Homo sapiens: one gene and its partner. The protein of the gene in region 2 interacts with the protein of the main gene of each other region in a biochemical or structural test. Each region holds a gene or a part of one and is shown on either strand. Other genes may lie near its edges.

Region 1 (3,758 bases), about 37 Mb from region 2:
CTTCTTATTGACACCAGTTATATTGGAGTAGGTCCCACCTGAATCATTGACCTTTAACTTAATTACATCTTTAAGCTCTCCTTCTTCAAATGCAGTCACATTCTCAGGTATTGGGAATTTGGACTTTTACAAATAAATTTTGGAGGGATGCAGTTGAGCCAATGCTACTGAATTCACAAAGATGTTTCTCACTACCCAAGATGTTATTCCACTAAATGAGTTACTTTCTCCTTTGAGAAATATAGGTGTGACCCAAATTTACAAGACATTTTTCTCAAGTTTACTCTTACAAAGAGTTCATTGGAGGAGAAAAGTTTTCAACTGGAATATCAAATAAGAAAGAATTTGTCAGCATTCTTTTCTTATACTGCTTTTGAGAAAGTAACTAAGAAAGTAGAGCTTATTCTAATCTAATTTCAGTCATTTCAAAATAGTACTGTTTTTCTCTATTTTTCTGCTTTGCATTCTACTTTAATCTATGTAATCCTTATTTTAAAAAATGTGCCTGTAGCAGTTTAGTTAACAAAGGGAATAACAAGAGAAATTCCTTTTTTTTCATTTTGGCACAAATCAAGGTTGATTTTGCACAGCAATTAAAACTAGCGAATCATGTGATAGATAATACTGTAAAACCTAAAGCTGTTTACTTAGAATCAAATAAAGTGGCATAGCTTTGAGAGGAGAGGCTGAGGGAAAAGATACTCTCAATAATTGATAGTGGGATTTCCAATATTATCCTCCATTACATTTGTTGGAATATTATAAAGTTTTGGATAATTATAAAATTTGTTTTCTTCATTAATGGTGACACACCTTTGATTGTCCATGATTTTTGACCCATGTGGTTCCACTGCTAATGTTACATACAATATAGTTCTTTAATATGCAAGGCCTGCATTCAAAGAGATAGTTAATATAGAAAATACATGACTATCGAGGAGAAAACATATCAGAGAACAATGACATAAAGCTATGAAAATTATTTATGTATTTATTTATTGAACATTTGCTAGTGAACTCAGAAATGCAAATTAAAATTTACTGTCATTCCAATGTAAGTTAAGTATATATTCTGCTTTTTGATTACATATATGTTGTGATTTACATATTGCTAATCTTGTTGAAATATTAAATTCATATTAATGTTAATTAGATGTAGCAGCTTTCTTAAGGTATAATAGAAATATAAGAAATGGCATAATTTAAAATATTTTATTTGCTGTTTTGATATATGAATCAATAAAAAATCACTGTATGTAAGATTATGAAAGTATCAATCACTCCCAAAGTTTCCCTTGTATTATGAATAAGAAAATTCTGAACATTTTAAGGTTAGAATCTATCTAATGACATGTTTCCTACTTAAAGTTTTATGAGTATATTCATATATCTCCATAATGAATATTAGATGCTTTTTACACTGTAGAATTTGTAAAACAAAGAAAATATTATTCATTTTTTCTTTAAATTATGAGATATTTTTTCATAAAATTAATTTCTGTTATACTCTCACAAAATATGCTACTTCTGCTAGCATAGTGAATATATCCTATCAGATTTATAAAAAAATTATAGACATATGAAGTTAGATATTACACGAAGTTACATTTAAGAGGGAAGCTGAGTGTTTAGATCTCTTTCAACTTACCTTGTCCATTAGCACAGGAAACCCACAAGGTCAGAATGACATTGATTAGTAACAACATGTTAGATATTCTCAGTAGTATAGTAATGCAAAAGTTTCAGTTGCACTGTTTGGGGTTTGAAATCTTTCATTATTAGTTACCAAGTGTGATTCTGAATTTAAGTGCACTACCACAAAGCTAGGGCTTTAAGGTCACTTAGTAAATATCAAAGTTCAGAGAGTTTTGCAAAATGCTTCAATGATTCTTGTTAGTGGTTTCACAATCATCTCTGGAATTGATTCCCTGGTATGTACATGTACAGCTTTATTTAGTGACAGTAATGGACCAACTCCAAAAGTAACATAAAACATTAATTCATTTTTATTTCTTATTTTTTAAGTAAAGAGAGTTTTAATACAGGGAATGAAAGGCTTCTGCAACTATTGGAAGCATTGAGGGACAAAGGTCAGAAATGCTATTTCCAGAAAATTCTGAAGTTCAGGAATCTTAGTGATGCCCTCACTAATTATCCATGGTGCTGCAGTGGATGTTTCTCAGGAAAACTTCCAGAAGCAAGGAAAGCTACTGTTGGTGATCTCAGCTGCTACCAGCAGCTGCTGACAGATAATGCCTTGTCTTTCTCTTCTTCCAAGTCTTCTTTAAGTACATCTCATGGGGGAATCTAAGGAAGAAGCAAGTTATGGAGAAACAGGCTTCAGAAACTGTAGTTTCAGACTTATCTTCTGCAATGGAGAAGAAAATGAAGATAGGAGCCGTGTTGACATCACGTTGAAAATAAACATCTGGCACACTATTCTACTTCTGAAAATCCTGCTGTTTGAGCATGGTAGGTTGTTTTTTTTCCACAAATGGTCATAATACTATCTCCTATCACACACATACTCTTCTTACAACGAGAACACTAATTTTAAAATTAAAGACTGGAAAATTGTTTGAAGTTCTTCCACAAGCAGATGAATCATAAATGAATATCTCTCAGGGTCCATGTTACTTTAATATTCTATCGTCCTTTGCTTCCCAATACCCAACTTAATTATTTAAGGATCGTATGAAAACAAACCAGTATGTCTGGACCCCATTCCACTGTCTGTATTTTCATGTGTTTAGAGTAGCATACTGATTTTGATAACTCACAATGGATCATACTGAGTACAAAAGTTTCAGCATATTCTTGATATCTCAATCTTTTTAAACTTGTGTTTTGGGGTATGTATTATTTTAAGGTACAATAAGGAACAATGGAGATAACCATTAGGTCTGGCTGCCTGAGAGCTGGGAAGAACAGAGCCACATTTCTCTTCTTACAAAAGCAAATAGGAGAAATATCACTGAATTCTTTCTCTCAGCAAGGAACAGCCCTGAGAAAGAGAATGCATTACTAGGGGGAGATCTCTGAAATGGCTGCTCTGGGAATGTCTGTCTTATACGGTTGCAGATAAGGGATGAAATAAGCCCTGGTTTTGGGTAGTGCTCCCAGGCTTATTAGGACGAGGAAATCCCGCCCAGTAAATTTTAGTCAGACGGGTTGTTTGCTCTCAAACCCTGCCTCCTGATAAGATGTTATCAATGACAATGCATGCCTGAAAATTCATTAGCAATTTTAATTTTGTCCTGGTGCTCTGCCCCCATTTGCCTTGTGATATTTTATTGGCTTGTGAAGCATGTGATCTCTGTGACCCACACCCTATTCGTACATTCCCTCCCCTTTGAAAATCACTAATAAAAACTTGCTGGTTTTGCAGCTTGGGGGGCATCACGGAATCTGCCAACATGTGATGTCTCCCCTGGACACCCAGCTTTAAAATTTCTCTCTTTTGTACTCTTTCCCTTTATTTCTCAGACCAGCTGACACTTAGGGAAATAGAAAAGAACCTACATTGAATTGCCAGGGGCTGGTTTCCCCCGATAAGCCCCAAAATCTATTTTAAGAGCATTTTTCTTAATTCATTTATACTAAAGCATTTATGACAATGCTAGTAATAAAACAGGTCACTACAGGTGTATATTACATTTTAAAGAAAATCATAACAGAATTTTATACATTAAAAGTCCAGGCTAAATTGTAGTTGAGACATATGTAAAAAGGGAAAAAAAGGATTAAAAAGATGAATT
Region 2 (3,758 bases):
AGAGGTGTTTGTTTATGTTGGCTTCACTAGAGTGGTGAAGGCCAATGGCTGATTTCCATGGATTGAGGAGGGAACAGGAGATGGAAAATAGAGGTTGTCAACCCACGTAAACTTTTCCTTCCTTCCTCCCTCTCTCCCTCCCATCCTTCCTTTTTTCTCTTTTCTTTCTTCTTTCTCTAAAAGATTAAATATATTATAGTATGGTTTTGTGGAAATGATCAAGTAAAGATGAATAAATTAATAATACAGAAGATAGAGAGGATACCTATAGGAGCAAAATTCCTTGCATAGTCGACAGGGTCTGGGATCCACTGAAGAATTGCAAGGGTTGGCCTTAGATGTAACACAGGGAGAGCTCATCCCTTTTAATAGAGGAAGACAGAAAGGCTGGTACATTGGGTTGTAGGAGGATATATAAGGATATCAGTTAGGTGTTAAGAACAGAAAGACTGAGTTAACAGTGATTTAACAAAAGAGGAGAGTATTTCTCCTTTAAGTAAATTTTCAGGTAGGCAGCCTAGAGCTGATGCAGTGGCTCCATACCCAATTATCCAGGCTCCATCTATCTTGTTGCCATGCCAACCTCAACATGCAGCTTACACTTGCTGGCCTGAAAGTGAACTATTCCATCTCCTGCTATCATGACTGAATACTAGTCAAAGGGAAAAAGGGGGAAGTGGGAGGGGAAAGCACATACCTTTCTTAAAGAGCACAACCTAGAGATGGTCCCTATTCTGTTCATATCTCGTTGGCCTTAATTTAATCACATCATCACTGCAAGCTACAGTGGGGGCTGGGAAATTTGGTGTTTGAGGGGATGACCAAGCGCCCAACTGAAAATGTTATTCTTCTCTTATGAGAAGTAGAGAATGGATGTTAGGGAATGGCTAGAAGACTCTACTACAAAGGATACGGTGGTTCTTTTCTGATTGCTTCTAACTTCTCAATGAAAGGTGAGTTCATCAGCTGAATGAAAGAATAAATGAGATTTTGGGGACTTGAGGAGCAAGGAGAAGGAGTATAATAGTCATTTTGAAGAGTGAGTTAAGTAGGGAACTGTAGTAAGATTGACAGACAGTGTGGAGGGATTACTTGAATCTTGTGAATAGAGGAAAGAGTAGAATCAGATTATCCTGACTCCTGCCTGAAGCTTTACATATTCAGAGAAAAATGTTGGAAGAAACTTTGATATAATGCTATGTCTGTGATCAGGCACACATTTTACTGGACTTTTACTGTCAGGGCCGTCATTTAGTGCCAAGATGTCTAGAGAGTTCTTAATAAGTGTACTCAATTGGCTGAGAAAATGTGTCCATGCAAAAAACCAAACACCGCGTGTTCTCACTCATAGATGGGAATTGAACAATGAGAATACTTGGACACAGGAAGGGGAACATCACACTCTGGGGACTGTTGTGGGGTGGGGGGAGGGGGGAGGGATAGCATTAGAAGATATACCTAATGCTAAATGATGAGTTAATGGGTGCAGCACACCAGCATGGCACATGTATACATATGTAACTAACCTGCACATTGTGCACATGTACCCTAAAACTTAAAGTATAATAATAATAAAAAAATGTGTCCATGGCTCTGGGAGGAGCATGTTTGTTTTCCTCATTTCCCAGTCTGTAAATAAGCAAATTGAAAGGGGTTAGTGATAATGTCCATCTCCAGAAGCTGTCAGATTTCCTTTGTCAAACTCTATGATTTGGGCTGAAGTAGGTGTTGGAGAGGCAGCTACCACGTGCACCCAGATGGCCACTCGTTTAATATGTTACCATTTCCCATTATTTTCGCAGGATAGATAGCCAAAGTGGAGCCCTGAGAGATTTCTTCATTTTTCCTGTCATAAAGAATTGGTAATTCAGTAGTCATAGGAGTTTGTAATAAATAACTCACATTGATTTCTCTGTTCTGAAATAATTTTGCTTCCCCTCTTCCCGAAGCTCTGACACCTGCCCCAACAAGCAATGTTGGAAAATTATTTACATAGTGGCGCAAACTCCCTTACTGCTTTGGATATAAATCCAGGCAGGAGGAGGTAGCTCTAAGGCAAGAGATCTAGGACTTCTAGCCCCTGAACTTTCAGCCGAATACATCTTTTCCAAAGGAGTGAATTCAGGCCCTTGTATCACTGGCAGCAGGACGTGACCATGGAGAAGCTGTTGTGTTTCTTGGTCTTGACCAGCCTCTCTCATGCTTTTGGCCAGACAGGTAAGGGCCACCCCAGGCTATGGGAGAGATTTGATCTGAGGTATGGGGGTGGGGTCTAAGACTGCATGAACAGTCTCAAAAAAAAAAAAAAAAGACTGTATGAACAGAACAGTGGAGCATCCTTCATGGTGTGTGTGTGTGTGTGTGTGTGTGTGTGTGTGTGTGTGGTGTGTAACTGGAGAAGGGGTCAGTCTGTTTCTCAATCTTAAATTCTATACGTAAGTGAGGGGATAGATCTGTGTGATCTGAGAAACCTCTCACATTTGCTTGTTTTTCTGGCTCACAGACATGTCGAGGAAGGCTTTTGTGTTTCCCAAAGAGTCGGATACTTCCTATGTATCCCTCAAAGCACCGTTAACGAAGCCTCTCAAAGCCTTCACTGTGTGCCTCCACTTCTACACGGAACTGTCCTCGACCCGTGGGTACAGTATTTTCTCGTATGCCACCAAGAGACAAGACAATGAGATTCTCATATTTTGGTCTAAGGATATAGGATACAGTTTTACAGTGGGTGGGTCTGAAATATTATTCGAGGTTCCTGAAGTCACAGTAGCTCCAGTACACATTTGTACAAGCTGGGAGTCCGCCTCAGGGATCGTGGAGTTCTGGGTAGATGGGAAGCCCAGGGTGAGGAAGAGTCTGAAGAAGGGATACACTGTGGGGGCAGAAGCAAGCATCATCTTGGGGCAGGAGCAGGATTCCTTCGGTGGGAACTTTGAAGGAAGCCAGTCCCTGGTGGGAGACATTGGAAATGTGAACATGTGGGACTTTGTGCTGTCACCAGATGAGATTAACACCATCTATCTTGGCGGGCCCTTCAGTCCTAATGTCCTGAACTGGCGGGCACTGAAGTATGAAGTGCAAGGCGAAGTGTTCACCAAACCCCAGCTGTGGCCCTGAGGCCCAGCTGTGGGTCCTGAAGGTACCTCCCGGTTTTTTACACCGCATGGGCCCCACGTCTCTGTCTCTGGTACCTCCCGCTTTTTTACACTGCATGGTTCCCACGTCTCTGTCTCTGGGCCTTTGTTCCCCTATATGCATTGCAGGCCTGCTCCACCCTCCTCAGCGCCTGAGAATGGAGGTAAAGTGTCTGGTCTGGGAGCTCGTTAACTATGCTGGGAAACGGTCCAAAAGAATCAGAATTTGAGGTGTTTTGTTTTCATTTTTATTTCAAGTTGGACAGATCTTGGAGATAATTTCTTACCTCACATAGATGAGAAAACTAACACCCAGAAAGGAGAAATGATGTTATAAAAAACTCATAAGGCAAGAGCTGAGAAGGAAGCGCTGATCTTCTATTTAATTCCCCACCCATGACCCCCAGAAAGCAGGAGGGCATTGCCCACATTCACAGGGCTCTTCAGTCTCAGAATCAGGACACTGGCCAGGTGTCTGGTTTGGGTCCAGAGTGCTCATCATCATGTCATAGAACTGCTGGGCCCAGGTCTCCTGAAATGGGAAGCCCAGCAATACCACGCAGTCCCTCCACTTTCTCAAAGCACACTGGAAAGGCCATTAGAATTGCCCCAGCAGAGCAGATC

What was found. Proteins that work in one complex are often made in the same cells at the same time.
Region 1: the proteins of CRP (region 2) and CFHR4 form a complex in vitro, tested with the Homo sapiens proteins (4 studies listed by IntAct, with this or other methods).

What each region holds. Positions count from the first base shown.
Region 1 is NC_000001.11:196,886,099-196,889,856, reverse strand, and holds the start of CFHR4 (complement factor H-related protein 4 isoform 1 precursor), read right to left. Parts: upstream 1,806-3,758; 5' UTR 1,707-1,805; coding exon 1,649-1,706; intron 1-1,648.
Region 2 is NC_000001.11:159,712,884-159,716,641, reverse strand, and holds the start of CRP (C-reactive protein isoform 1 precursor), read left to right. Parts: upstream 1-2,052; 5' UTR 2,053-2,156; coding exon 2,157-2,217; intron 2,218-2,503; coding exon 2,504-3,117; 3' UTR 3,118-3,758. UniProt on the Homo sapiens protein: Displays several functions associated with host defense: it promotes agglutination, bacterial capsular swelling, phagocytosis and complement fixation through its calcium-dependent binding to phosphorylcholine.